Homo sapiens: one gene and its partners. The protein of the gene in region 3 interacts with the protein of the main gene of each other region in a pairwise test. Each region holds a gene or a part of one and is shown on either strand. Other genes may lie near its edges. The genes, in order: RNF32, EPB41L3, PAXIP1 and MAST1.

The links.
Region 1: the proteins of PAXIP1 (region 3) and RNF32 interact in a two-hybrid assay, tested with the Homo sapiens proteins (one study listed by BioGRID).
Region 2: the proteins of PAXIP1 (region 3) and EPB41L3 interact in a two-hybrid assay, tested with the Homo sapiens proteins (one study listed by BioGRID).
Region 4: the proteins of PAXIP1 (region 3) and MAST1 interact in a two-hybrid assay, tested with the Homo sapiens proteins (one study listed by BioGRID and IntAct).

What each region holds. Positions count from the first base shown.
Region 1 is NC_000007.14:156,643,204-156,650,872, forward strand, and holds part of RNF32 (RING finger protein 32), read left to right. Parts: intron 1-597; 5' UTR 598-674; coding exon 675-689; intron 690-1,295; coding exon 1,296-1,554; intron 1,555-3,250; exon of another isoform or gene 3,251-3,357; intron 3,358-7,669. UniProt on the Homo sapiens protein: May play a role in sperm formation.
Region 2 is NC_000018.10:5,533,329-5,540,997, forward strand, and holds part of EPB41L3 (band 4.1-like protein 3), read right to left. Parts: intron 7,097-7,669; exon of another isoform or gene 7,012-7,096; intron 1-7,011. UniProt on the Homo sapiens protein: Tumor suppressor that inhibits cell proliferation and promotes apoptosis. Modulates the activity of protein arginine N-methyltransferases, including PRMT3 and PRMT5.
Region 3 is NC_000007.14:154,971,582-154,979,250, forward strand, and holds part of PAXIP1 (PAX-interacting protein 1), read right to left. Parts: intron 4,751-7,669; coding exon 4,115-4,750; intron 3,325-4,114; exon of another isoform or gene 1-3,324.
Region 4 is NC_000019.10:12,848,515-12,856,183, forward strand, and holds part of MAST1 (microtubule-associated serine/threonine-protein kinase 1), read left to right. Parts: intron 1-3,419; coding exon 3,420-3,521; intron 3,522-3,600; coding exon 3,601-3,733; intron 3,734-3,745; exon of another isoform or gene 3,746-3,813; coding exon 3,814-3,881; intron 3,882-7,669. UniProt on the Homo sapiens protein: Microtubule-associated protein essential for correct brain development. Appears to link the dystrophin/utrophin network with microtubule filaments via the syntrophins. Phosphorylation of DMD or UTRN may modulate their affinities for associated proteins.

The DNA of each region.
Region 1 (7,669 bases), 1.7 Mb from region 3:
GCTCAGCTGTGTCCAGTATCTTGCGCAGCAAAGCGGTAGAGTTCAATTGGAACTCAAGTTGGTCTGTCCCCATATTCTGTACTTCTGTGTTCTGGACAGACTGAAGTTAGCCAGTGTTCCTCTTGCGTTCCAGTTTCTTCATTGTTCCCTTTCTCCCCAAAATAAGCATATCATGCTGATTTCCAGCCTGCCAGTTCTTTCCTCCTACCTGTAATGTGCCATCTTCATTTCCCTCTGTGTATCTTTCAAATGCCAGTTTAACTGGTTTTTCCAAGTCTCCAGTGTTAGCCTGAAGTTTTGTAGTACTTATGTATCATGTTATATTTAGCAATGGATTAATTCATAGTAATTAACCATTTGTATTAATGTGTCCTCAGGAGCTCAGGGGTGAACTATTTGAGGACAGGGATGAGTCGAAGCATAACTGACTTGAGTTCACCCCCTTCCTCCAGAACCAGAATGTGTAGCTTAGTGCCACCCTGTAGCAGGCATTCCTGCTGCTTCAGGATCTGTTAGACTCTTACAGAGCATCCTCACAAACTTCATGGTTTTTCTGTGCACTGTAACTTTGACTTTCTGTTGACCACGTCTTTGCAGCAGAAGAATAGAAGGAAGGTGATAGGATGTGATGATAGAATTTGTGATAGCCAAGCAACAACTTTTCCTAATTCGGCATGTTAAAAAATAAGGTACGCTATTCTTTTCTTAAACATACACGTTATTTGACTCATGAAATGTATTTTAATTCAGCCATTTGAGAGTATAAAAACTAGTTTGCAAACCCTGCTTGAACTAGGAATTGTCAGCAGGAATGGGCGATGCCAAGTGTCGCATGGGGCAGTGGACAAGCCAATGGAAAAACAATCTCTGGCGATATTTACTGCAAGCATCTCTTAGCTGTTTGGTGATTTTTATTCTGCACAGGAAATTATTAAGTTTTCACAAAAAGGCATAAGCTGAAATGGCAGGAGTCTCCTTAGTAGTTGCCTGGAGTCTAATTTAATTATAGTGAAGCAGCGTGGGTTTGTTTAGGCATGCACAGGTTTATGGGTCATAATGAATTTATTCATATTATAATTAAGGCTTTCATAATTAAATGAAAAGATATTCCTGTATTGTTAACATAAATGCTGAGACAAGGGTCTGCTCCTACTTAGGTAACAATGAGTCAAGCATTCCTTACTATTTGATTTGGTTGTATGTGCCATCAAGGTTGAGTATTGAAGCCTCAGTTCTCTTCTAAATGATATATTACATAATACTCCTCTAAATATGACTTTTTTCCTACTTTTTAGGGTCACTCATCTAAGAAAGATAACTTGGCAGTCAATGCAGTTGCTTTACAAGATCACATTTTACATGATCTTCAACTTCGAAATCTTTCAGTTGCAGATCATTCTAAGACACAAGTACAAAAGAAAGAGAACAAATCTCTAAAAAGAGATACAAAGGCAATAATAGATACTGGACTTAAAAAAACTACACAGTGCCCCAAACTAGAAGACTCAGAAAAAGAATATGTTCTTGATCCCAAACCGCCGCCGTTGACTTTGGGTAAGCTGACGTAGTCATTCATCTTTTGGCTTATTAGGGCTAAAAAAATCTATTGAGATTAATAGTATAATTTTTTATGTTACAGAAATAACTTATTTATAATTATACAGAGAGGTGTGTATGTATTGAAGGTATGTATGTATTGAAGTTTAAAAATGATAGGGGACCATTAGAGCAAGAAGGTAAAGATAGTAATGGTAAGTAGAATAAGTAAAAATGGGAGAACAAAAGAAATATCTATTGATTCACATTGATAAAAATAAATAATTGAGTAAATAAATGATGGAAAAGAAAAATCCCTTATAGTAGAATGAATATAACTCATAAGGATAGTAGACGGGGATAGAAAATCACCTTTGGCAAACACCACAGTAATGATCATCAATACTGAAATTAGGAATGAGAAAAATTTACGTACAGACACAGAATATTGAGGTAGTTTCTCCAGAGATGCAAGTACATGGCAGGGAGAAAAACAATAACTTCACAATTACTTCAGCTGTACAGTTGTAACGCTTGGCAAGCAGCACCTGAACCAAGTAATCCTAGTTAGGTCAGCAGTAACGCACGGGCCAGCATCATGTGTCTCCTGCTGAAAGGTACAACATCACTTCTGTGGCATTCTTACCAAAATGTATATCTGAATTTAATCATGAGGAAACCTCAGACCAGTCCAAGTGAAAGACATTCCACACAGTTCCTGGCTAGTACTCTTCAAAAGTATCAAGTCAACAGAAGCAAATGAAGACCTAGCAACTGTTCCAGATTACAGGAGACCCAGGGGACATAGCTGCAAGTGCAATCTGTGATCCTGGATCAGATCCTAGTTCAGAAAAAAGACATCAGTGTGACAGAGAACCAGATCTGCAGAAGGCATGTAGGCTAATTGATAGATTATAGCAACATTAATTTTGTGGTTTTGATCTTTGTACCAGGGTTATATAAAAGGTTAACATTTGGGGTTAAGAACATACGATAATATTTTCTTTTTGCAAGTGTGAATATGTATTTAGAGTAAGACCAAAACTTGCAACAAATCAGGAATTTCAAAACAACATGAAATGTATCCCAAACAAAAATCAATAAAAATAGCATAATATTTTGTATTAGTTAGCTGCCTGAAATATCTCTGTAATACTTTTTCCATCTCTTTTGATTGCTAGATACTCTTTGATCATATTTTCATGTGACAATAATTCTGTAATGTCATTCTCTATAGAAATAAGTCAGCCTTACCTCCGTCATGGCTGATTGAAATTCTTTATGATAGGTGGGATGCATATAGCATGCAACTTCACACACATTCTTACTGTGTATGGTATTGCTACAAGTTTGTGCCTGTAAATAAAGGCATGCAAATCAATTCCATTTCTTCTAATTAATAAAAGGAGATGTATTATGCACTTATAATTGTAAATGCTGTTTTTAAGGATATTCGTTTCCCAGTGCTGCCACAAGCAATTAGTACAAACTGGGTGGGTTAAAACAAAAGAAATGTATTCTCTCAGTGTCCTGGAGGCCAGAAGTCCAAAATGGCGCTGTTGGCAGGGTTCTACAGAAGAATCCTAACTTACCTTTCCCTGGTGGTTCCTGGCATTGCTTAGCTTGTGGCAGCGTCACTCCAATCTCTGCCTCTGACTTCACAAAACCTTCTTCTCTAGGTGTGATTGTACTCTCCCTTTCCTCTTCTTATAAGGATACCATTCATAGGATGTACAGCCAACTTTAAACCAGTATGACCTCATCTTAACTACATCTGCAAAGACCCTATTTCCAAATAAGGTCAACATCCAGAGGTTCCAGGTGAATAAGAATTTTGAGATGACACAATTCAACCCAGTACATCAAGTATGTCCCTGATAGGGGAGAACTTCCATTTAGATTAGGCATCAATGAGAACGGAATCCTTCACTTACATTTGTTGTCTGGAAGACTTTTTCACAGCATCAAGCTAAGTACTTTTCATACTTTGTTCCTTATCCACTACTCACATATATTACTATGTTGATAGGTACCAGAGGTCTTTTGATAGCTCACAGTGGCTAGGCTATGGTTTGAATGTTTGTCCCCTCCAAAACTCATGTTGAAATTTCATTTTGTTTTGTTTTTTTTGAGATGGAGTCTTGCTCTGTTGCCCAGGCTGGAGTGCAGTGGTGCGATCTTGGCCCACTGCAACCTCTGCCTTCCGGGTTCAAGTGATTCTCGTGCCTCAGCCTCCCAAGTAGCTGGAATTACAGGTGTGTGCCACCACACCCAGCTAATTTTTGTAGTTTTAGTAGAGATGGGGTTTTGCCATGTTGGCCAGGCTGGTCTTAAACTCCTGACCTCAGGTAATCCACCCGCCTCAGCCTCCCAAAGTGTTGGGATTAAAGGCGTGAGTCACCATGCCTGGCCTGTTTTTTTTTAATTTTTTGTTTGTTTTTTGTGTGTGTTTCTTCTTTTTTATTTATTTTTATTTCAATAGCTTTTGTGGTACAAGTGGTTTTTGGTTACATGGATGAATTATATAGTGGTGAATTCTGAGATTTTAGTGCCACCACCAGAGTAGCCTACCCTGTACCTAACGTGCAGTCTTTTTATCCCACACCCTCCCACCCTCCGCCTCCTGAGTCTCCAATGTCCATTATACCACTGTGTATGCCTTTGCATACTCGTATCTTAGCTTCCACTTATAAGTGAGAACATACAACATGAGTTACTTCACTTGGAATAATGACCTCCAGTTCCATCCAAGCTGCTGCAAAGGACATTTTTTCATTCTTTTTTGTGGCTGAGTAGTATTCCATGGTGTATATATACCACATTTTCTTTATCCACTCATTGGTTCATGGGCACTTAGGTTGGTTCCGTATCTTTGCAGTTGTGAATTGGGCTGCAATAAACATACGTATGCATGCATCTTTTTCATATAATGACTTCTTTTCCTTTGGGTAGACACCCAGTAGTGGGATTGCTGGATCGAGGGATAGATCCACTTTTAGTTATTCAAGGAGTCTTCATACTGTTCTCCATAGAGGTTGTACTAATTTACATTCCCACCAGCAGTGTATAAGCATTCTCCTTGCACCACATCAACGCCAACATCTGTTGTTTTGTGACTTTTTAGTAATGGTCATTCTTGCAGGAATAAGGTGGTATCTCACTGTGGTTTTAATTTGCATTTCCCTGATGACGAGTGACGACCATTTTTTCATGTTTGTTGGCCATCTGCATATCTTCTTTTGGGAAATATCTGTTCGTATCATTTGCCCTCTTTTTGATGGGATTATTTGTTTTTTTTTTTTCTTGCTGATTTGTTTGAGTTCCTCGTAGGTTCTGGATACTAGTCCTTTGCTGAGAATTCTTCATACTGTTTTTACAACCTTTTGTAAATCTGAAATTATTTTAAACCGAAAAGTTAGAAATATGATTTTTTATTGATAGGCATGGAAAATAGGTTTGGTTGAGGATGGCGTGTCTTGGCGCAGGTCAGATGGATCTGGAGGTGCTGGAAGATCTGTGTGTTGGAGTCACACAAGGTGGAGGGGACCTGTTTCCACAGCGACGCCAGGGGAGATATTTGATGCTGTCTTCCTCTGAACTTCTGCTAACAAGCTCGATGTCTTCTAGAAAACAGCATGGCTCATGAACGTGTTGAGACTTGGAATAATGTCGTACAGTAGTTTAGTGAAGATCTTCTGTTGTACCTGTATGGTTTATGTAGATGACCAAATAGTTTCATCATAATCAATCTTAAGAGTTTTATCAGGAAAAATTTAAATTAGATATAAAGAGGAACGTCCCAATTTGGAAAATAAGTAAAGTTATTAAGGAAAATAGATGAGACCTTTTTTCAGGACCTCTTTATGGAAAAAATCTTGATTGTGCGTATTAGTTACTAATGACATTGAACCATATGCTCTTTACTGTCTATACATAATATTCCACTTGGATTTCTGTCTTTTCTTGCTGATTTACTGGAGTTCTTTGCATATTCTACATAGTAATCTCTTGTTGATTTAGCCACTGAAAATATCTTCTGTTCTTTTACCATCTTTTAAATTATATCTATTGTTTTATATTGAATACAATTTTCATTCTGATTAATGTTAAATCCATTGTTTTGTTTTGTTTTGTTTTTTTCACTTTATTGCTGTTTGGGAGAGACTTTAGATATACTTCACCATTCTGAGAGTGCAAAGATTTTCCTACATTTTCTTTATTTACCTTTAACCTTTTACCTTTCACATTTAGATGTCACCACAGTTTGTTTTGCTTATGATACTGGGAAAATCGACGAGATTAAAGCGTGTTTTGTTCTCTCCTTCCAAGGCTTCTGCTTCTATGTCAGTATTGCACTGTTTTGATTAATAGAGTCTTGCAATATGTCTTAATAGCTGCTAGGAAAAGACGTTTCCTCTTTTTTTTTTTCCTAAAACTGCCTCATTTTCTACATAAAATTCTGCTGGAGATTTTTTTTGAATTGGATTTATAGATCGGGGAAATACTGTATTTACAGTGTTATCATCTGATCCACAAATATGGTAGCATCTCACACCATTTAGGTCTTTTTGTCTCTGATTCCTAGGGGTTTTCTGAGTAAGTTGATCTCTGCAGTGATTCTTATTGTCTGTGCCTCTCTACTTTTATGCCCCTTCTTTTTTTTCCCTGCTTTTTTTTTAATCTGGCCAGGATCTCCTGAGCTGTGGTGAATACGAGTAGTAATACCTAGCATTTCTGTCTCGTTCCTTAGCCTAACACGTTTCATTTACTTACTTATGTGATGTTTGCCCTTTGTTTATTGTTGTTTTGTGTTGTTTGTTGGCCTTTATCTAATTATAAAATTTCCCTTTTAGCCAGTTGCTACAGGTTTTTAAACTCATTAATAGGTGTACTTTTTTAAATGCTTTTTTTCCTGCAACTTTTTAGATGAGCGTGTTTGTTGTGGGTTTTCTCCTTGAGTTTGTTTGTGCCGTAAATTACAGTGACAGACTCTGATGTTGAATCTTCGTGCATAGCTTGAATAAACCCTACTTGCCCACGGTGTTTTTCACATTCACTGTTGCATTCTGATAACTAATTCTCGTTTACGATGTTTGACGTTTAACCATGGATTACCCTGGACTATGATTGTCCTTGTCTGGTTTTATTATCAAAGCCATATAAGCTTCACCAAATAAGTTGGGCAGTGTTCCCTCTTTTTCAGGATTCTGGAATAACAGAAAATAGGGATGATATGTTCCTTAAAAGTTTGGGGAAACTCACTTGTAAAATCATCTGGGCCTGAGGCTTTTTTTCCTTTAAGCGGGGTGAGGAGAGGTGATGGGTTAGGATGCATTTGGCTGCAAATATACAAGCAACACACTGAAAGTGATGTAAAGCTTAATGGTGTGTGTCATTGTTCACAGCAGTTCTGGTTTGGTGGCTTATTGATGTTTGCCGGGACCAGCCTCCTTCCGGTGCTGCCGTCGGGAGGTGCTGCCCCGTGCATGGACACAAGAGGGTGCACAGCCCCAGGGTCAGTCCTCAACAACAAGGGAGGAGCCAGAAAGGCAGGGGAGAAAGCTCCCAACAGACCTTCCTTCCGCTTCACCTGAGACGGTCACATGCCCATTGATAGTCTAAAAATTGGCAAAGGGTAGCAAGACTTCCACGACATGCTTAGATCCATCAAGAGACCTCTGTGAGGCTGAGCCCATTTCCACTGACGCGCAGTGGGGTTCTAAAGGCAAGATGGGTGCTGGACGTGCTATTGATTTTAAACATTATTACATTGTGGCCAGAGAGCACAGCAGTTTGCTGAAATCTGTCAATACAATTTACCTATTCTCCCTCCCGTTCTAAGGTCTTGATTAGTTTATAAATATAAGGCCAGGTTTGCATGATGGGGAGATGTGGATGTTTGAAGTTGAGGCAGTTGACATTGACCATAGCAGAGTCTGGATTGTACAGCAAGTGCCCACCCAAGTCTAAGAGGAAGGGTGGTGCTGGGGGCCCTGTCTCTCCCTGCTCCCACACCTTGAGCCAAAGGCAAAGAGCTGCCCTGAGGCAGCGCCCCTCCTCCGCAACCTCAGTCTCAGCCTCTTCAGTCTTACTGTTCATTTGTTTCTCTGCAGGCCAGGTGCTCTCTCACTAA
Region 2 (7,669 bases), on a different chromosome or scaffold from region 3:
ATTCAAATGTGATATACAGTGACTTTTGTTTTGTTGTCCCCCTATGTGGATTATGTGAGTGTGTGTGTCCTTCTCGGATATGAGCATAGGAAAAAATGCTAATAAATTATAATGTAGTCTGACCATTTACCATTGATATGAATGTCACTAAACATAGCAACATTTGTAAAGAAAGCTTTTAATCATCTCAAGTTTCACATATATAAGTGAAGAACTTCATAATATCTTAAAAGTATCTGTAAGACCCACATAGCTCAGTATGATTTTGACCAGCAGGATCACATTTACTCATAGAAGCATCTCTTCTTCAAGGCCATTTTACTCTATTACCGATCACAAAGCAAGAAAATTAACCCCAACTGAAGACATATTAAGAGCTACGTACTTTCACTTAGATTCTTACTCAACCATTCTGACCATTATGCTACATAATTATCATTATCCCTATTTAATAGATAAGAAAACTAACCTTTTATCCTACTTCCTTAACCTTTTAAATTTTACATAATTTCCTAGGGCCACAGAAGTTATGGACCAGCCATAAAGAAACCCAAGGCCGGGCGCCGTGGCTGACGCCTGTAATCCCAGCACTTTGGGAGGCTGAGATGGGCAGATCGCAAAGTCAGGAGATCGAGACCAGCCTGGCTAACACAGTGAAACCCCGTCTCCACTAAAATACAAAAAATTAGCAAGGCGTGGTGGCGGGCGCCTGTAGTCCCAGCTCCTTGGGAGTCTGAGGCAGGAGAATGGCATGAACCTGGGAGGCGGAGCTGGCAGTGAGCCGAGATCTCGCCACTGCACTCCAGCCTGGGTGACAGAGCGAGACTCCGTCTCAAAAAAAAGAAAAAAGAAAGAAAAAAAGAAACCCAAGCATTCTGAGTCCAAGGCCAGGTTTCTTTGCTCTATGCTAAACATTTTCTTCAACCTTAGTACTATTTATTTATATTATATCTTCTTTCCAGGTTAAACGCTCATTTGACAATAGTGAAGAAGCTGGAAAGTCATTAAGACAAAAGTCGTTAAGACAGTGTGTCTCAAAATGTGGTCCTGGGACCACCTGGATCAGATTTCACCAAAGTACTTGTCGGGACATAAGGAGGTCTGGATCCAACTGCAGATCTATTAGATGATAATCCGTGGATTGGTCCCCAAAAATTCCTTTTTAATAAACTCATCAGGTAATTCTGTTGTATAACCACTGTGTCTCATTCTTTGCAAACCTCTACTGTTATCTGGAGTTTCATACTCAAAAAATTCTGCATTCTCATAGAGGGCCATCTTTTGGATTACGGGTTTTGTGGTGGAATGTCACAAAATTCTACACTCATCCTGAGGGTCATCTTTGGATCTTACAATTACTAAGACATGTCCCTAAAAACAAGCAAAGAGGACAACAGCATATACTACTGAAATGAGAAAACATGTACTATGTGTATACTCTCATTAGACTGGTTCTAGATGTCTTCAAACACAGATCTCATTTCAACCTGGAGGTAGGCAGCATCGTCATCTGTTCACTCTGGGGAACCTTGCCTAGAGAAATAGAGTACTCCTCCCACAGTTACCTAGCTCAAGGTTAGCAGATGTTTCCATCTGTATCTTCTCTAGCTCTTTGTATTTTCTTTATTCTGCAACAAGGATTCCCCACCACTGGGCCAAGGACAGTGGTGGTGAGCGGTGGGTGAGTCAGCATTACCACCTGATCTCCGCCTCCTGTCAGATCAGAAGTGGCATTTGATTCACATTCTTGAGTGAGAATGTGAGAATGTGAACCGCACACGTGAGGGATCTAGGTTGTGCATTCCTTCTGAGAATCTGATGATGTGAAGTGGAACAGTTTCTTCCTGAAACCATCCCCCACAACCCCCGTCCATGGAAAAACTGTCTTCCATGAAACCCCAACCTCTGTGCCAAGGACAGGGCCACACAGCAGGAGGTAAGCAAAATGGAGGTCCTTGGTGCTAAAAAGGTTGGGGACCCCTGTTCTACAATATAACTCCCCCCAATGAATTACTGCTCTCATTTCAAGAATTCAGAGGAAAAGTTTTCCAGACTTCTTGAGCAGACAACCTAGTCAATCTCTATTTTCCAAGTCTTATACTTAGCCAGTAAGCATATTCCTTCTAAAGTTAATAAAAGTTGTCACTGAGTAGCACAAAATGGTATAAAACACCAAAATTCATCAAGAATAATTCTCTGTAATGAAACTACCCAAAACTCCCTATATCTCTGGGATGTTAGTAACTCTAGGAAAAAATTACGTAGAAATATGCAACTGTCCGGGCCAGCCTGAGACCTCTAGATGCCCCGATGGCATCATCTCACAGAAGCCTGGGTGCACCATTCCAGCTAGCACCACCTTCAGGATCATAAAGCTATTCTCCCCAAATTGGTGAATGAAGACTGGATTCCAAGTAAATCCAAGATCAGTCAAAATCATGGGATTGTGAATAACATAACAGAGCAGCCCACATCCCTGACGAGGTGGCATAAAATCTGTGAATGGAATATGACATTTGTTACCATTCTGTTGTTGAGGACGAAGGAAGGGTTGGGAACTCAGAGAGAGATCAAAGGAAGCTTAATATTTTCCATCTCTGGGAGCCCAGTGACCCCGTACACCTACTAAACTATCCCAGACCCTGGATATTTTGATTCTGGAGAGTCTAGTTCAGGTCCAGACTGCTGCATCTGCTGTCCCTCGAGGCATGCCAAGAGGCACATGGGAGAATGATGGGCACCCAGGAACTCAGGTTAGGCTTTGCTGGATGAGCTCGCCCCTCTATAAAGAGATGACATTAAAATCTAAATTTAAAAAAGTCAGGAAATCTATGGTGAAAATTTGCTTGTTTTAGTTTGTTAGAACTCAATATTCACACACAACATTGAGATATACATAATAATCATCAGAGATTTTAATTTTTTTAAATATCCTGTTTTACCACAAGCCTCCTGATGTGTATATTAGAAGAGAGTCATGAAGTGTAGGCAGCAAGCAGAAGGAGGCAGAGGGGCTGGACAACAAGGCTTCACATCAACACCATCATTAAGGTAATGATCCTTTATCAATATTGCACAAGACCAAAAGAAAATATTTATTTACCATTAAAAATAATGATGTGGGTATAGATTTGCATGCATGAAAAAGCTCCTCCGAGACATACTGTTACATTTAAAAAAAAAAAAAATTTGGCCTGGTGCGGTGGCTCACACCTGTAATCCCAGCACTTTGGGAGGCCAAGGCGGGCAGATCATTTGAGGTCAGGATCATTCGAGACCAGCCTTGCCAACGTGGTAAAACCCCATGTCTACTAAAAATTCAAAAAAAAAAAAAATAGCTGGGCAGGGTGGCGGTTGCCTATAATCCCAGCTACTTGGGAGGCTGAGGCAGGAGACTCGCTTGAACCTGGGAGGCTCACTTGAACCCGGGAGGCAGAGGTTGCTGTGAGCTGATATCGTGCCACTGCACTCCAGCCTGGGCAACAGAGTGAGACTCTGTTCTCAAAAAACAAACAAACGAAACAAACAAACAAAAAATGGTTACATAGAAGTATTTAAGACAGAAGTCTATTCATGTAAAATATTATGTAATCTACATATGAGTCTGTATATGTACAAAATGATGCTACTGCTATTTATGAAGCACTTGTGATATACCAGATACTGTGCTCAGTGTTTGCATGTATTACATCATTTAATCCTCATATCCTTCAGATATAAGCATTATGCCCATTTTATAAACGAGCAAACAGGCTCTAGGAAGTTAAAAGAACCATGCCACATAGTTATTAAATAGCAAGGCCGAGAGCCCAACCCAGGTGTGTCCTATTCCACTCTGATACGTAATACATTCAGAAAGGTAGATAATGACATTGCCTTTTTTGGTTTTTCTGTATTGTTAGACTATATTTTAAAGTGAGAATGTATTATTTTTAATATCTCAAATAACTGAGATACATTCATTGAAAGGATAAGGAAAATCTTCCCATATTTCGTATATCTCATTTTCTACCTTAAACAATCCAAAAGTAGTATTTAATCCTCAGTTAAATACTCCCACAAAAAGATGGAATGAATTGCCAAAATATCAATCATTGAGAGAAAAAAACATCACATTCAATTTCTGCAAAATTTTGGATAACTCCATTAACTAAAGACCATCTGTCTCCAGATTCCTATTCTTCCAACTCATCCTACACTTATCACCAGAAAAAATATTCTTCTTCCCTACTCAACCACTTTCAATAACTCCCCACTACCTAGCAAAGCCCCAAATATCCCTTAGTCTCATATCCAAAAACCTTCCACAATCAGGCCTCACACTCCCTACTTAGATGCACCTCCCATTACTCCCCAGCATACAGGCTATATTCCAGCTAAAGGCAGGTCTCTTGACTTCTGGAATGTCCTATCTGGAATGTCTTCTCAATGACTAATTGAGAGTCTCTATCAAAATCCAGTCATCTTCCCAAGGCCAAAATGGAAAGTCAAAATGGGAAATGAAGAATTTTCAATAGATTTTCCCTATAAAAGGATCCTTTTATAGGAAACAATCAATAATACATAGAAAAACAATCACTGATACACAGAATGGACAGTGTAAAATAAGCATTACATATTATAAAGTACATTTCAAAAAATTGCATAGCCAAATGATAAACCATATTTCATAAGATTCATGACACTGATTATAAGAGATAACATCATGTTGTATAGCACTCTGCCAATTAAGCTATGACTCACACATTTTTAGAAACTGGAATTTTCATTTTCTTCTTATCTAAAGAACTCTGATTGAGTTATTCAACGCATAAAGAAAATATAAACAAAATAGATTGGCCAAGGTGTTCCCAAAAATTCTTACATATTCAGAATCCAACTCTACCAAATTGCACGTCAACTAAGAGTTACTGCTGTCTATGCTTTTCCACACAATATCAACTTGGGTCACCACGAGCACTAGAAATGTATCACTTAAGAGTGCTCCATTACTGTCTCCAGGATTTTCTCCAATCCACTAACATCCAATGTCCAATTTTTGATGCATATTCACAAACAATGAATTAAGTTGCCAGCTTTTTCTCTGCAACATGGCTGAGAGCCATGTAAGACATATCCCAATTTCAGAGATGTTAAATGTGAAAAAATAACTTTCTTTTAGAAATGATGAAATTTGGGGCTTGAATCAAATACAAAGAAACTCGCTATTTGAGGATGTAAACACAGGCATGTACAAAAATGACCAAAGAAGAGAGAGCTAAAACAGAAAATAGTTTTCCTCTCTTTAGTTGAATGCTAGGAGATCAATATCATCTCCCAGCACTAATCCTTTTCAGCTTTTGTCACCCTACCATTTGATCCCTCCCCTCTTCAGAGGACACCCTCCACACTGATGTCCTCCATGACACCAATTAGAGCTGGCAGGAAAGGAAACCGACTCCCTGCAGTTCTTCCCTCAAAGAAACCATTCTTCTTTTCTCTTGGTACCTGCAGAATTCTCTTCCCTGATATGGCAAAACCTCTAGGATCTACCAATTTGAGCTACAGACAGAGGTAACAACCTTGTTATGAAGAGGACCACGCCATTAAAAATAATGACTACATACATGAGTCTGGTAATTCTCATTTTTAAATAAAGCAGCAGTGCTTTTTAAGCTTTCTCCAAGATTTTTTTTTTTTTTTTTTTTTTTGGTAGTAAAGCGTAAGTTACAAATGGCCCCATTTTTTATACAATTTCGTAAGTATTTACTGAATGCTTTAAGTGTCTAGACCTTTACTTGGTTTGGGAAAGAAACCTGAAGAGAAATAACTCCCTATCCTCATCAAGCACCCACCCAATATAACTGGAGAGAAAAATATATACTCAAGGCAGGTTAAATATTACATTTGTTTTCTAGGTCTAATATAGACCTTTCTGCTTTCTCTCTCTCTCTCTCTCTCTCTCTGTTTTTAGTTTGTAAGGCAGGGTTATAAGAACAATGTATCAAAATGTCAGCAATCTAAAAATTAAGTTGTCAGCTTTTTCTCTGTACTGCAAATTACAAAAGAATTGGTGCTAATAGAAGCTTACAATTCCAAAGTATGCAATTTAACCAATCATCGCAAGGACTAAAAATGCAACACCAAAGACATTTCAACCAAGTAATCTGCAGTTCTGGCATCTAATTTCAACTTGTCTTCTTGTGCCATTCTTCCCAATTTGTTTCTTCTTTATGCTTTGAAACTGTGCTCTGGAATTGCTACATAGTTAAGAAAGAACTGCCCAGAGCTCCTACATACATAATACACTCACATGAAAAATGTCAGTCATGGAAAAGACAAGGAACATCTGCAGCCATTCTGTGGTTCTTCATTTTTTATGCTGATATTACTATAAATTCAGAAAGGAAAACATGAAATATACTTTATTGCTTCCGAATTTCAGTCTTATCATTTATTCAACACTAATTTGGGTGAAATATGTCTCTGATCATCTCTGCACTAGAATTCTAAATTAGGATTAAAATGCTAAATTATAAAATAATTAGTACATAAAACAAAAATGGAAATGGAAATCAATTACTCCAAATCACTGCAGATATCTTCTACTTATGAAACACCTTTTTCCATTTTTTCCTATTGCCAACTGCAATCACATCACTTAAAAATAAATGAGAACATTGCCTACCCAATAAGTAAATTGCATCTTTAGAGAGACCACATACTTTTTTTAAAAGACATTACTAATAACCTAAATCAAGAATTTAAAAAGAATGCTGTTTTAGTACAAAGAACAGTAAGAAATATGTTGCCTCAATATATAAATAAAAATATACTCATTTTTCTTGTTCTTTAATTTTGTAAATGGCCCTTCTAAAAAATTACAGTTTTCTCTACAAAAGGAATATTCAGTGCTTTCTACTATTTCACAAAAAACAAACAAACAAAAAACGTCTCCTTCCTTACTCTTGGAGACACATTTTCCCATGCAGTCTTATATTCATTTACACCTTTCAATTCTCCAAACAATACCTCGCAATGCAGTTCAACTTGAGAAAGGAGTCTCATTGATTGATCAGGCAAAGTTTTAAAGCCAGCAAGATGCTTCAGATGGTCTGGTTTTGCCTGCCCCACCCTTGTTTCCTTTGAGCCATAGTGATGTCACAACACCAGGCAGGACAATGACTTCACTGCTCCAGTCCTTGCTTCTGAGCACAGAATTCCCCACAGCCAAGGCAAATCAAATAACAGCAGAACCCTCCCGGGCTGAGTGCCTGATGAATTCCCAACAAATCAGCAGCTAGCTAGCCGTTTGAAAGAAATAGATGCAGCGATTGCACGATTAAGGATCTCTCTAACTGAAGTGGTGCTAAAGATAAATTTGATTCATAGGTTTCAATGGTGAGTCTATATTTCACGGAAAACTGATGGGGTACTTAGGGGAGACTATGGGAATTAAAGACGGCCAGGGTAGATTACTCAAGAACCCTCTCTCCGCCGGGCGCGGTGGCTCACGCCTGTAATCCCAGCACTTTGGGAGGCCGAGACGGGTGGATCACGAGGTCAGGAGATCGAGACCATCCTGGCTAACACAGTGAAACCCCTTCTCTACCAAAAATACAAAAAAATTAGCCGGGCGTGGTGGCGGGCGCCTGTAGTCCCAGCTACTCGGGAGGCTGAGGCAGGAGAA
Region 3 (7,669 bases):
GGAGAACGTAAGAAAAAGAATCTTAATTGCTCAATTACGTAATTGTGCTATACTACAAACAATTCTGAATGAATGTCAAGTTTAAATTTTTCCATCACAACTGTCATAATCCTCATTTACATTAATACTGAGTTACTGAATGCCATATATAGAAAGCAGTATGATACACATCACATGGCTTCTAACCACTATAAATTTGCAATTTAAACAGGATTTTGATGGTAAGTTACACTCCCCCCAACAATCTAATGTTCAACTAAATCTGTCTCATATTTCTAAAGTTTCAGTCATTTTCTTCACATCTAGAAGTAAAACGTCCTTATGTTCTCTTGCATTGCTGAAAGTCTCTCAGAAAATCTCCGCAATTCTTCTCACTAGTGATCAAATCCATTCACTCACTAGAAATGGATGGAGCCTTCTCAGTTTTCCACCGCTAGAGCACACAGCTGAGTATATCAAATTTGTCTCCTAAGGACAATTTCCAGTGCAGAGATGTGCCCAAACTCCCTACTGCAGTCAATTCTTTCCATTTCAAAGTAAATTATTTTGTCTCTATATCCAAATACAAACTTAAGGAACTTTATATTTAAACCAACATCCATTGTATTTGAAAAACATAATAAGGCCAGGCACGGTGGCTCACACCTATAATCCCAGCACTTTGGGAGGCCGAGGTAGGCAGATCACCTGAAGTCAGGAGTTCGAGACCAGCCTGGCCAACATGGCAAAAACCCGTCTCTAATAAAAATGAACAAACATTAGCCGGGCGTGGTAATGGGCACCTGTAATCCCAGCTACTCAGGAGGCTGAGGCAAGAGAATCGCCTAAACCAGGGAGGTGCAGTTTGCAGTGAGCAGAAATCCCACCACTGCACTCCAGCCTGGGCAACAGAGTGAGACTCTGTCTCAAAAAACAACCAAAACATATATATTAGAAATAAGTAGTAACTAACCAGCAGTAACTGACCAACACTTTTTGACACCACAGATAAATGAAAAGCAAAGAAAATTTCCTATTTCAAATGGATGACTTCTGTCCATAATTTCTCACCTAAAGAAAGTGAGAAAGTAGCCATTTCTCGAAGTGCCAGAGGCTTAATCCATGATTTCTCACACCAACCCTATGAGAGAGATCTTTACGGCCCATATCTCGCATATCCCACTGCTGACAGGACAGGTCCACTGCGTGGCCGCAGTCTTCCTGCCAGGACTGGGTCACCTTCTCAATTCCTCCACCTCAGCAGTATCATCACTCTTCTCATGACTGAGGTCAAAAATGCTAGAATCCTCTTTGCCTCTAGCCTGTCATTCTTTATGGCCTTTACTTTCTACCTGTCATGACATCCTCTGGCTCTCAGGACGACTGTGTGATCGTCACTTTGCTGCTCTGTGGCTGAGGCTGTGCCCTGTGGCTTTATCCCGCCCACCTGCCTGGACGCGGATGTGCAGGGACCAGGGCCGGCACCCTCAGCATTGGGCGGTGCTGGAGCTGGCTCCTTCTGTGCATCTACCTTTTCCCTAAACTCGGCTGACCCCAGCGCTCTCATGGGCACCCACCTGGACAATCCCTGGCCTTGCAGCTCTTGGACCTCCTCATCTTGGTGGCCTTCTCCCCATTTCCTCAGCCACACATTCCCAACCACCCCCAAGACCCATGGTCAGTGGCAGGCCTGTTTTCCTCCGGGACCCAACAAGGTGACATGGAGCGGTGGGCACTGAAGCAGGCCCAAGAGCTCCTAACGGGCAGCTGCTGTTCAGTTACAAGGCACTGTCACCACCCAGGACTTGAGGAAGGCCAGCTCGGCATTTTATCAGGCATCCACCTCTCAAGCCAGAAACCCAAAGTCTTCCCTATCTATGAATCACCTATTTGAAAATCTTCTATTCTCCTCAAACCCGATGACCTTCTCTCTCTGCTCACCTTCTCCCCCACCATCTTAACTGTCTGCTGTCTAACATCTAAAGGGCATGTTTGCCTCTATCTTACTCTGGATGCCAGCCAACCGCTGTCATCATCCCAAGAACCGTGTACTACTAATACTCGCTGCTTAGGTGGAGGGGAGGGGAGACAAAGATTTTGTCTGTCCCACAGCATTTCTAAACACTACGTAAACCACTGCTATTATCATACCCAATAAAATGATCATTGTCAACATCACCTTATACCTACGCCATACTGAATTTCCCCACTTCATCAACATCAAGCCTTTCCACTGAAAGTGGATGTGGAGAATACTGGATCCGGCTTCAGGTTGTTCCTATATGCTACAGAGCCATTTTTCTGGGACTTTGAGCTGTCATTATGAAATGAAAGTGTCCAGAACAAGGTGAAGCGGCAGACGGGGTGTCACCATCAGATGGAACAGCCCAGCTGGCTCTCAATGGTGCGGCTCCTCAGAGCCTGGCCCCAGACCCTCCTCTTGCTCTGCCCCACCTACTACACATTCTCACATCCGCCTCCACAGCTTCAGTCAGCCTTGTTTTCTCTGGTTCCACCACGTAGCAGACAGCCCCTGCATGGATCAGATACCTCCAACCCAACACATCTGAAAAGAAACTTAGGTTCTTCAAACCTGCAGCTTTCCAGTGTTCCTTATCTCTGAAACAGCATCATCTTCCTTCACTCGCTCAAGCCAGAAAGCTGGATCCTCCCATTCATTTTTTTCTGTCTCAAACTCCAACTCTATGTCCTCTTAAGGGGCCTCTCTGCTTCACTCTTGCCCCTCAAAGATCCACTGTTTACACAGAGTGCATCTCACCCCAACTCAAAAGCCCAGTGGCTTCCTTCCAAGAAAGACCATACTCCTCACTATGGCCCTATATGGCAAGGCCCCTTTTAAATCCTTCCTAGAACTCATTCACCTTATGAAGTTCAAATTTCATTAACTTTCTTTTCTTAGAACTCAGCAAATTCATGCCATTTGGGTCTTCCTTTTGCCTGGGAACTCTGTGCCCTCAGTTCTTCACATGGCCTCTCCTTGTCATTCAACCCTGATCTAAGTCACCTCCTGCCCGAGGTCCTTCTTGACCATCTCGTCTAAAATAGCCTCCTTCCCTTCACCTGCTATTACGGGACCCTGATTATTTTCTTTGAAACACCTTTCACCATCAACAGTCCTTTTGTTCATATTTCTCCACTTACTGTATGTCTTCTCTACCTAAATTAGTTTTCTTAGTCACAATTTTATCTCCAGTGCCCAGAAAAATGCAGAGTGGCCAATATACCACCTCAACTACCTTCTTTCTGTCTTAAATAGAAATATATGTACTTAAAACTTTTAAGGCCATGCGTGGTGGCTCACACCTGTAATCCCAGCATTCTGGGAGGCCGAGGTGGGTGGATCACTAGAGATCAAGAGTTCAAAACCAGGCTGGCCAACATGGTGAAACTCTGTCTCTACTAAAAATACAAAAAAAAAAAAAAAAATTAGCCAGGCATGGTGGCACATGCCTGTGATTCCAGCTACTCGGGAGGCTGAGGCAGGAGAATCATTTGAACCCGGGAGGTGGAGGTTGCAGTGCGCAGAGATCATGCAACTGCACTCCAGCCTGGGCGACAGAGTGAGACTCCATCTCAAAAAAAAAAAAAAAAACAAAAACAAAACAAAAAACAACCAGCAACAAAACTTAAGATCCACTCTGTATCAATAAGCTCCATGCTATATAAACTGTAACCTGAAATCAAGCCTTCCTCAACAAATGCATGAATTTGTGTTATTTATTTACTACCATGAAGTTCATTATAAGCAAATCAGGTACAGCTGGTAAACTTCATTATTCTCTTTGCTGCCATTGCTAATTTTAAACTAAGTAAGAGTGGAAACCCTTCAACGGATAGTACTCCATCACTGACATCCTGGTTCTACTCAGCTGCTTTAAATCTTCAACTTAAAATACGCTGTTACCCTTTTTCAATGACCCTGAAATATACATATATACACATACACACACACACACACACACACACACACACACAAGTAAACAGGTTCTCACACAAATACTGCTTGTAAGTTATTTGGTCTGAAAAAGCAAAACCAATAAACTACATTGAAATAGACTGTGAAATCCAATTCTAAGATCCAATACTGACATTTTTTTCGGAAAGAGTGACTTACATGTGCTACATTTGATGGCCGGTTCATCTGCTGAATGTCAGCATTATTAGTAATATTCCTCAGTGTCCGTACAGCTGGACTCCAGGTAGCTATCATTTCTGATCTTTCAGAACTTTGGAGGTTTTGTCCAGCAGCCATTAAATTACCCCGGACCTCAGGGGGCAAAATGTTACCTGGGACGGGTGGGACATTGGCACACAAGTTAATCAACCCAGGCTCCTTTCCCTGAGGCAGCCTGCGTTTTGCTGCAGCTAACTGTGGGACTTCGGCCGGGGTCCAGTTTAAATTTCTCTCCTGTTTTTCCGGTGATGAATCTGAAGAATCATCAAACATTAATTCCCCTTTAGATTTTTCAGTGTTGGATTTAGGTGAAAACTGCTGGTCACCTGAAGGAGACCCTTCTTGAGAGCTGGCAGGGCTTGACTTCTCATCTGTACTACCCTCATTCTGAGAATCTTGTTCCTCATTTTCTACTTCCTCCTCCTCTTCCTCTTCCTCTTCTTCCTCTTCATAAATAATCAGACGAGGATGATAAAATGCTTCGTCCTTTTTGGTTTTCTCTGATACGCAATCCAGAACCCAGTCAGGAGTCACAATTTTAATACTTGCTCGCTTTAAAGCACATTCGTATTTCTCCTACGAGGAAAGCAGAAACACACACAAAACAAAGCTGTAAATTTTATCACATTTCCTACAATTACGCATTTTAGAAAAAACTCAGTCAAGGAATGCAGTTGAAATGTTGAGCAACTATTATTACAATTTTATACAGAAGCAACGTTTGATCTTTTAGACAGAGGACATGAGGCAAAAGTGAAAAGGAACCATACAGCAGTGATCATAGGAAGGTCTCACACCTGTAGCAGGAGTCTTAAAAGACTTGGCTGAAAATTAACTTTTTAAAATGATATTTTAAGTACAAAAGTAGAGCTAGTAATCCTATGGAAAATTATGAAATGAATAATTGCTACCTAAGTTTTTACTGATTGATAATATTTAGAAGCTTGGTTTTCCATGACAGTTAGTAAAGTAACAGCGTGGCAGAGTGCCGCCAATGCATCACGTACACTCATGGAGCATGGCTGACTTGGCTGACTTGCATAGGACAGCTCTATTCAAGATCCAGTATTTATGGAGCTCATGCTATATGCCAAGCAGCACTAAGGGATGGAGACACAAAGGATGCAACAAGTCTCTGACCTAACAAGGCTCACAATTTGGTTCTAAAGAGATATTAAATACGGAATGCAAATACAATATAAAACCACTGCTGAATGATGCAGTAACAGACTGGAAGGGAATCTCATCAACATAAGCTGGAGGGCAGGAGGAAAGCCCCGTTGAAAGGTGAGCTTTGGCTGGGGCACAAATGATGACAATTTGCACAGTTAGAATGAAAGCAGAAAATACAGCCCACTGGAAAAGATGTGTCCGGAGTAGTATGTTCGGCAAGCTAACAGAGACCTCTCCTGTGGTAAAGGGTGTAGAATGTGGAAGGCACAGGGGAGGGAATAACAAAGAAAGAGGAAATAAATAAAAAATGTTAAATAAGAGTAATATGACAATAAAGTAACCTTAAAATAAATGAGTTGTAAATTTGGCTGTGCTCCTAAAAGCTTAACACATAACAGCAATTCTCTAGCAAACACATAATCAGGGCCCTAAACTAAACTCCGTGTCCTGTTGCAGAGCCCCAAGGTGGCATTTGCAATTTCTGGGTGGAATAAGAGTCACACGCAATAGGGATGCGGGGCAGCAGCACAGAGAGGACAGCTGTTGGTCATTCGGTCCTGGCAGCGAACGCCAGGCATTGCCCATCTGGGAGATCCTTGCAAATAGTGAGCTCTGCACACAGCTCAGTGACTTAACTTGTGTTTGTGAGTTTGTTCTTTCTCAAACCTTTTTAAAATATAAGAAAAACCTAGTCATGGGAGACACCCATGAATAAGAAGCTAAGCAAAGGAAAATGAATGTAATCATAATCACACTGACTAGAAAGGACCACGATTAACATTTTTAGGGTATAGTTTAAATTTATTTTTGTTATAAATATATATGTACATATATTAAAAGGGCAAAGGGAAAAAACATATAGTCATAGTGAACAAATACTTTATAATGTTCCTTTTTCACTTAATATATTGTGAACAACCTCTTCCTATGAAAACATGTATACTTTTATGCTTTTGTTTTTAACTTTTTAATGTACATTTTCGAACACAGACCAAACTTTTTAATGTACATTTTCGAACGCAGACCAAACTTTTTAATGTACATTTTCGAACGCAGACCAAATTAGAGACTAGTGGAATAAATCCCTTGTATCTGTCACCCAGCTTTAATAACTGGCAATCTTTTACAAATCTTGCTTCTCCTGAACTTTGTTTACGGATCTCAAATTGATAAAGACTTTCTAAACCACCATAATTATCATAGCAGCACAATGAACTATGATTCACCTCATCCTCAGGCCCTATTCAGATCTCCCCAGTAGTCTCAAAGGCTTTTACAGTTTCCTCTTCGGTTGCACAGCTGTGTACCTTAGTTCATCCCCCAGTGTTAGCCACGTGGTTGTTTCCAGTGTTTCACTACTATGAAAAACTGCAGTTATATTTTATGACAAATTCCTAGGTTTTGGTGTTGAGGTTTGAAAAGGAATAGATTTAAGGCTTCATATCTCTAACTACACTTCCCTTCCCAAAAAGGCTATTCCAATTACACTTCCAACAGCTATGTAAGAGTACATCAATTTACCTATACCCTCGACAATAAAATGTCTTATTCTTTACCCTAAAAAATCATGCTGTTCTTAAATATTTAAAAGCATAAAATGTTATATAGCTCTCCCCAGATGATAAATTTCTACTAGAGATTTTCAATTTCTGGACTACCCATTCCAGAAAAACCCAAGTTATTTTAGGAAAATATGAAGTCCAGGTACACAGCAGAATATTTATGAACCAATTAATACAAAAATATCATCTGCTTGAATAACATATGACTATATGTAATATGGTTTACATATGATTTTTCCAAGTTAAAAAGATATCTGTTGAAATAGTAAAATATGAAAAAAAGTTATTTTTAATTGTTTTAACAAATACCAAAAAACAAAACAAAACTACTGCCATGAAGAGGAGTCACTGAAAATTTTGGATATGAAAAAGATAATTTCACACTTAAAAGGCTGGGATCCAGTAGGCTCTTGAGTTCCTAGTTTGTATAGAATGCTGGCATTTCACATTTCAGAAATAACTTGACTATTTCCTGTGGAAATCTAAGTAAAACACTTAGGTAAACAGCCTTACTATATTTCACTCAAGTTTTCTCTCGCTTTTCACAAGATAGGTAGTTTTTAATCACTGAAAGACAGTAACTGTTTAAACAAAGATGATTTAAGAGGAAAGCAATGTTTAGATGCCTTTGCCTGACCCAATTTATCAGCTAAATTATTCTAAATTTTGTATCCTCAAAACTTCTAACTCACTAAGGGCTAAGGACCTCAAGGGTCAACCATGTCCCCTCTCCCCAACAACTAATAACCATACCCCGTTT
Region 4 (7,669 bases), on a different chromosome or scaffold from region 3:
TACTCGGGAGGCTGAGGCAGGAGAATGGCGTAAACCCGGGAGGCGGAGCTTGCAGTGAGCCGAGATTGCGCCGCTGTACTCCAGCCTGGGCGACAGAGCGAGACTCCGTCTCAAAAAATAATAATAGTAAATAAAATAAAATAAAATAAAATATTAAACTTAGCCGGGTGCGGTGGCTCAGGCCTGTAATCCCAGCACTCTGGGAGGCTGAGGCAAGTGGATCACCTGAGGTCAGGAGTTCGAGACCAGCCTGGCCAACATGGCGAAACCCCGTCTCTACTAAAAATACAAAAATTAGCTGGGCGTGGTGGTGGGCGCCTGTAATCCCAACTACTTGGGAGGCAGAGGCGGGAGAATCGCTTGAACCTGGGAGTCGGAGGTTGCGGTGAGCCGAGATCACACCATTGCACTCCAGTCTGAGCAACAAGAGTGAAACTCTGTCTCAAAAATAAATAAATAAATGAAATAAAATAAAATATTAAACTCTACTCACATTTATCACCCACTTTCTCCTCAGTTTCTCCTTGACACTCAGCACCATCCATCATACTGTGTATTTTTGCTTATTTTATTTCATGTCTATCCTTCTCCAATGTCAGCCCCATAGTTGGTGAGGGTGGGGGGGTGGAGTTGTCTGTTCTGTCCACTGCTGTGTCCCTGCTGTTTGGAACAATACCCAGCACACAGTAGGTACTCAATAAATGTTGGGTAAATTGATGCTTGAATGTCCCTTTGCAGTGGCATGCACCTGTAGTCCCAGCTAGCTACTTAGGAGGCTGAGATGGGAGGATTGCTTGAGGTCAGGAGCTTGAGACCAGCTTGGGCAACATAGCAGGACCCCATCTCTAAAACAATTTAAAAAATTTAAGCCAGGCGAGGTTGCTCACGCCTTTAATCCCAGCACTTTGGGAGGCTGAGGCGAGCAGATCACGAGGTCAGGAGTTTGAAACCAGCCTGGCCAATAAGGTGAAACTCTGTCTTTACTAAAAATACAAAAAAGTTAGCCGGGCTTGGTGGCACGTGCCTGTAATCCCAGCTACTCAGGAGGCTGAAGCAGGAGAATCGCTTGAATCCGGGAGGCAGTGGTTGCAGTGAGCCGAGGTTGCGCCACTGCACTCCAGCCTGGGCAACAGAGTGAGATTCTGTCTCAAAAAAAATAAAAATAAAAATAAAAATAATTAGCTAGGTGTAGTGGCACACACCTGCTGTCCCAGCTACTTGAGAGGCTGAGGCAGGAGGATCACTTGATCATTCATTAATTCCACCAATATTTATTTATTTATTTATTTTATTTTTTTTGGAGACAGAGTCTCACTCTATCCCACTGGGCTGGAGTGCAGTGGTGCGATTTTGGCTCACTGCAACCTCCACCTCTCAGGTTCAAGCCATTCTCCTGCCTCAGCCTCCCGAGTAGCTGGGATCACAGGCACCCACCACCATGCCTGGCTAATTTTTGTATTTTTAGTCGAGGCAGGGTTTCACCATGTTGGCCAGGCTGGTCTCTAACTCCTGACCTTAGGTGATCCACCTGCCTCTGCCTCCCAAAGTGCTGGGATTACAGGTGTGAGCCACCATGCCTGGCCCCCACCAATATTTATTAAGCACCTACTATGGGCCTGGCACTAGCCTAAAAGCTGGGAAATCAACTGGAAATAAAACAAAAATTCTTGTCTTTGGAGAGCTGACATTCTATTAATAGCAGGAAGAGACAGAAGATAAACAATAGGCGTTAGAAGCTAACCCCTGTAATCCCAGCACTTTGGGGAGCTGAGACAGGAGGCTTTCTGGAGCCCAGGAGTTGCAGACCAGCCTGGGTAACATAGCGAGACCCTGTCTCTACAGTAAAACAAGTCAAACAAACAAAGACCCAATAGGTATTAGGGCTGAGACCAGGACCAGGGTAAAGCAAGTAATTATTTCTTCCCCCAGAACATTAAATTAATTTTTGAAAAACTTGAAAAGTAGATAAATGAAAACCCAACATTATTTTAAGTTTACATATTTTATTTATAACCAAGCCAGAATGTGTTATAATTTTACTGTCCTGGTTTTAATGAAAGCAAACTCATCAATAATACTATTTTCATTGAAACCATTAGACATTTTCAAAGACACATTAAAACACATATAGGTTGGTGCATACTTTTTTTTGGCTCAAGTTACAATATGGCTAGGCACAGCCTGTTGGATTCTGTCTTTATTTAATTTTCTTTTTCTTTTTCTTTTTCATTTGAGATGGAGGACTCTCTATGTTGCCCAGGGTGGTCTTGAACTCCTGGGCTCAAGCAATCCTCCTGCCTCAGCCTCCTGAGTAGCTGGGATTATAGGCATGTACCACCACATCTGGCTTAAATTTTGATATTTTGGCTTATGATAGATTTTTGGCATTAATTTTAGGCTTTTCAAGTATTGCAATAAGATATTAGTTTTTTCTTTTCTTTTTTTTTTTTTTTGAGACAGTCTCACTCTGCTACCCAGGCTGGAGTGTAGTGATGTGATCTCGGCTCACTGCAACCTCCACCTCCCTGGTTCAAGCGATTCTCTTGCCTCAGCCTCCCAAGTAGCTGGCATTACAAGTGTGTGGCACTATACCCAGCTAATTTTTGTACTTCCAGTAGAGATGGGGTTTTGCCATGTTGGGCAGGCTGGTCTCAAACCCCTGACCTCAAGTAATTCACCCTCCTCTGCCTCCCAAAATGCTGGGATTACAGGCGTGAGCCACTGTGCCCGGCCTCTTTTTCTTTTCTTTTTTTCTTTTTTTTTTTTTGAGACAGGGTCTCTCTCTCTGTCACCCAGGCAGGAGTGCAGTGGTATAATCAGCTCACTGCAGCCTTAGCCCCCTGGGCTCAAGTAATTCTCCCACTTCAGCCTCCCAGGTAGCTAGGACTACAGGCACACACTACCACACCTGGCTAATTTTATTATTTGTAGAGACAGGGTCTCGCTATGGTTTTGTTGTTTGTTTGTTTGTTTGTCATTGCTTTTGTTTTGAGACAGAGTCTCGCTGTGTCACCCAGGCTGGAGTGCAGTGGTGTGATCTTGGCTCACTGCAACTTCTGCCTCCCAGGTTCAAGGGATTCTCCTGCTTCAGCCTCCCAAGTAGCTGGGATTACAGGCACCTGCCACCACGCCTGGCTCATTTTGCGTTTTTAGTGGAGATGGGGTTTCACCATGTTGGCCAGGCTGGTTTCAAACTTTTGACCTCAAGTGATCCACCCACCTCAGCCTCCCAAAGTGCTGGGATTACAGGCATGAGCCACCGTGCCCAGCCTCATTATTTTTACTGTGTGGCTTGGGCTTCAGTCTCCTCACCTGTAAGATGGGACAGTAGCAGCAGTATGTACTCTGAGGGGCTGAGAGAGGGGCCGGGCTGAGGCAGAGTGCCTATGAGCCCTGTCCCTCTGTGTCCCCTGCCACAGGCCTATGAACGCTCTGAGAGCTTGGAGGTGGCCTTCGTTACTCAGCTGGTGAAGAAGTTGCTTATTATCATCTCACGCCCTGCGAGGCTGCTGGAGTGCCTGGTGAGGGGGCTGGGCATGGGTAGGGGTGGGTTGGTAGACCCTGGGAGCCTGTGGTGAGCCCACTCCTGCCCTGCCTCAGGAATTCAACCCCGAGGAGTTCTACCACCTGCTGGAGGCGGCCGAAGGACACGCCAAGGAGGGCCACCTTGTGAAGACGGACATCCCCCGCTACATCATCCGCCAGCTGGGCCTCACCCGTGACCCCTTTCCAGGTGCCGGCTGGTGGGCGCAGGGGGACTGGGGGTGAGCAGGCCCAGAACCCAGCTCGTGCTCACTCTCAGTCCCTCCCTAGATGTGGTGCATCTGGAGGAACAGGACAGTGGTGGTTCCAACACCCCTGAGCAAGACGATCTCTCTGAGGTAAGGCTGGGTGGCTAAGCGGTCAGTACCCTGGTTCCTGGGAGGGCAGGGTGGGGCTCATCTCCGGCTTCTTTGCCCTCAGGCTTTGTGGATCTCTTGGTCCTACACTCTGAGCCTCAGTTTTCCCATCCATAAAATGGGATTAATAATAGCTCTTCCAGAGCCTGGCATGCTGGCTCATGCCTGTAATCCCAGCACTTTGGGAGGCCAAGGTGGGCAGATCACCTGAGGTCGGGAGTTCGAGACCAGCCTAACCAACATGGAGAAACCCCGTTTCTACTTAAAAAAAAAAAAAATGCAAAAATTAGCCAAGCCTGGTGGCACATGCCTCTAATCCCAGCTACTTGTGAGGCTGAGGCAGAAGAATCACTTGAATCCAGGAGGCAGAGATTGCTGTGAACTGAGATTACACCACTGCACTCCAGCCTGGGCAACAAGAGCGAAACTGTCTCAAAAAATAAAATAAAATAAAATAAAATAATTGCTCTTCCCCTGTGACCTCTTTGTCATGTTAAAATCCATGAAACATAAAATTTAATTTACTTTTTTAACCATTTTATTTTATTTTTATTTATTTATTTATTTATTTTTTGAGATGGAGTTTTGCTCTTGTTGCCCAGGCTGGAGTGCAATGGCACTATCTCAGCTCACCACAACCTCCATCTCCTGGGTTCAAGCAATTCTCCTGCCTCAGCCTCCCGAGTAGCTGGGATTACAGGCATGTAACACCACACCCGGCTAATTTTGTATTTTTAGTAGAGACTAAAATTTCTCCATGTTGGTCAGGCTGGTTGCAAACTCCCAATCTCAGTTGATCTGCCCATCTCGGCCTCCCAAAGTGCTGGGATTACAGGCATGAGCCACCGCGCCCGGCCTTTTTAACCATTTTAAAATGAACAATTCGGGGCCGGGTGCAGTGGCTTAGGCCTGTAATCCCAGCACTTTGGGAGGCCAAGGCAGGAGGATTGTTTGTGCTAAGGCATTTGAGACCAGCCTGGGCAGCATAAAAAATCAGCTGGGCGTGGTGGTGCACCCCTGTAGTCCCAGCTACTCGGGAGGCTGAGGTGGGAGGATCCTATGAGCCCAGGAAGTCAAGGCTTCAGTAAGCCATGATCACACCACTGCACTCCAGCCTGGGCAACAGGGTGAGACCCTGTCTTGAAAAATGAAATTAAAAATAATAAAGAATAGGCCAGGTGCAATGGCTTATGCATGTAATCCTAGTACTTTGGGAGGCCAAGATGGGTGGATCACTTGAGGTCAGGAATTCGAAACCAGCCTGGCCAACATGGTGAAACCCCATTTCCACTAAAAATACAAAAAAATTAGTTGGGCGTGGTGGCACATGCCTGTAATCCCAGCTACTTGGAAGGCTGAGGCAGGAGAATTGCTTGAACCCGGGAGGTGGAGGTTGGTGTGAGCCAAGATCCCACCACTGCACTCCAGCCTGGGCAACAGAGCGAGACTCTGTCTCAAAATAATAATAATAATAATAATAATAATAATAATAATAATGATTAATAGTAATAAATAAACAATTCTGCAGCATTTAGTAATTCACCATGCTGTACAGCCATTAGATCTATGTAGTTGCAGAACTTTTTTATCACCCCCAAAGGGAAACCTCACACCCATTACACACTCCCTCCTCATTCCTCCCTCCCTGCAGTCCCTGGCAACCACTAATCTATTTTCTCTCTCTGTGGAATTGCTTTTTCTGGATATTTCTTTTTTTTTTTTTTTTTGAGACAGAATTTCACTCTTGTTGCCCAGGCTGGAGTGCAATGGCGTGATCTCGGCTCACTGCAACCTCCGCCTCCCAGGTTCAAGCAATTCTCCTCCCTCAGCCTCCTGAGTAGCTGGGATTATAGGCATGCGCCACCACACCTGGCTAATTTTGTATTTTTAGTAAAGACAGGGTTTCACCATGTTGGTCAGGCTGGTCTCGAACTCCTGACCTCAGGTGATCTGCCTGCCTTGGCCTCCCAAAGTGCTGCGATTACAGGCGTGAGCCACATGCCTGGCCTTTTTCTGGATATTTCCTATAAATGGGATCGTATGCTCTGTGGCCTCTTATGACTGGCTTATTTCACTTAACATAACGTTTCTGAGGTTTATCCATGTTGTAGCTTGTGTCACTGCTTCATTCATTTTTATAGCCGAGTAATATTCCATTGAATGGTAGATGCATTCATCCACTGGTGAACATTGGGTTGTCCATCTTTCATCTGTTGTAAATAGTGCTCTTATGAATGTGGGTGTACAAATATTTGGCTGGACAACTGCTTTGAGTTATTTAGGATATACGTCTAGAGGTGGAATTTCTTGGTCATATGGTAGCTCTATGTTTAACTTATAGAGGAATCCTGCATGGGCTTTCGAGCAAGCTAACTGGCTGTATGTGTTAATGGCAGCTCAGCATGGGGAAAATTGCCAATTCTATTCCCAGGCCAGCCACACTTTGGCAGATGTTCCAGATGTCTAGTGGAGAGTCCTACCCCAATGGCCACACATGTGTTTTCTCTGAACTGCCTAGTATTTTTCAAAAATTTGGGCTGGGCCTGATGGCTCACGGCTGTAATCCCAGCACTTTGAGAGACTGCGGCGGGTGGATCACTTGAGGTCAGGAAGTCGAGACCAGCCTGGCCAACATGGTGAAACCCTGTCTCTACTAAAAAAATACATAAAATTAGCCAGGTGTGGTGGTGCCCACCCGTAATCCCAGCTACTTGGGAGGCTGAGGCAGGAGAACTGCTGGAACCAGGGAGACAAAGATTGCAGTGAGCCGATATCAAACCACTGCACTCCAGCCTGGGTGAGAGAGTGAGACTCCATCTTGAAAAAAATAAAAATAGATAAATAAAAGAAGCAAAATATAAAAATTGAAAGATTTTTGCTTCAAAATCTGGGTTTGGGCCTTCTCTTGAAAAATCAGAAGTTCTAGGGCTGGGTGTAGTGGCTCATGCCTGTAGTCCCAGCACTTTGGGAAGCCAAGGTGGCAGGATTGCTTGAGCCCAGGAGTTTGAAACCAGTCTGGACAACATAGCAAGACCCTGTCTCTACTTAAAAAAAAATAGAAGAAGAAGAAGTTCTAATAATACTGTGGTGGAACCAGCTGAGTGGGGGTGGTCCTGTGATATTGGGTACCTGCCCCTTCGTCATCCATGGCCTCCACCCTGGTCTACTGGCCCCTGAAGACGCTTAAGTTTGTAATCTTTATTTCAAATTGTGTCTATACAGTCACACAGATATATACACATACCTTTCCTTTATGTATATATTTAAAAGGAATCTCACAATATATGCCATTTGTTTAATTTTTTGAATAGGTAATGGAATGACATCACTCAAAATCTAAAACTCTAAAAAAAGGTATTTATCTCTCATTGTTTGTAGGATTCTGTTATTCCTTTTAATCAAACTTGTTAATTGAGTGATTCAAATCTTCCATCTCCCTATTCATTTATCTTGCCTGATTAATCTAATAGTTTCTGAGAGAAATGTGAAACCTTATTTTAAGCAAATTCTCCTTGTAATTCTGTCAATTTTTTTTTTTTTTTTGCCATTTTGGTTTTTATTTGATTATAGGTAAGAGTTCCATACAATAGTGTGCGAAGTATTGCAAACAATAAAGGAAAAATACAGCATAAGATACCTCTTACACTCTGCCCAATTCTGTCAATTTTTATGTCAGATATTTTTAGGCTACATTCTTTGGAGCATATAAGTTCAATATTTTTATATATCATAGATCTTTTTATGTAATATCTATGTAATAAATCTCTTTG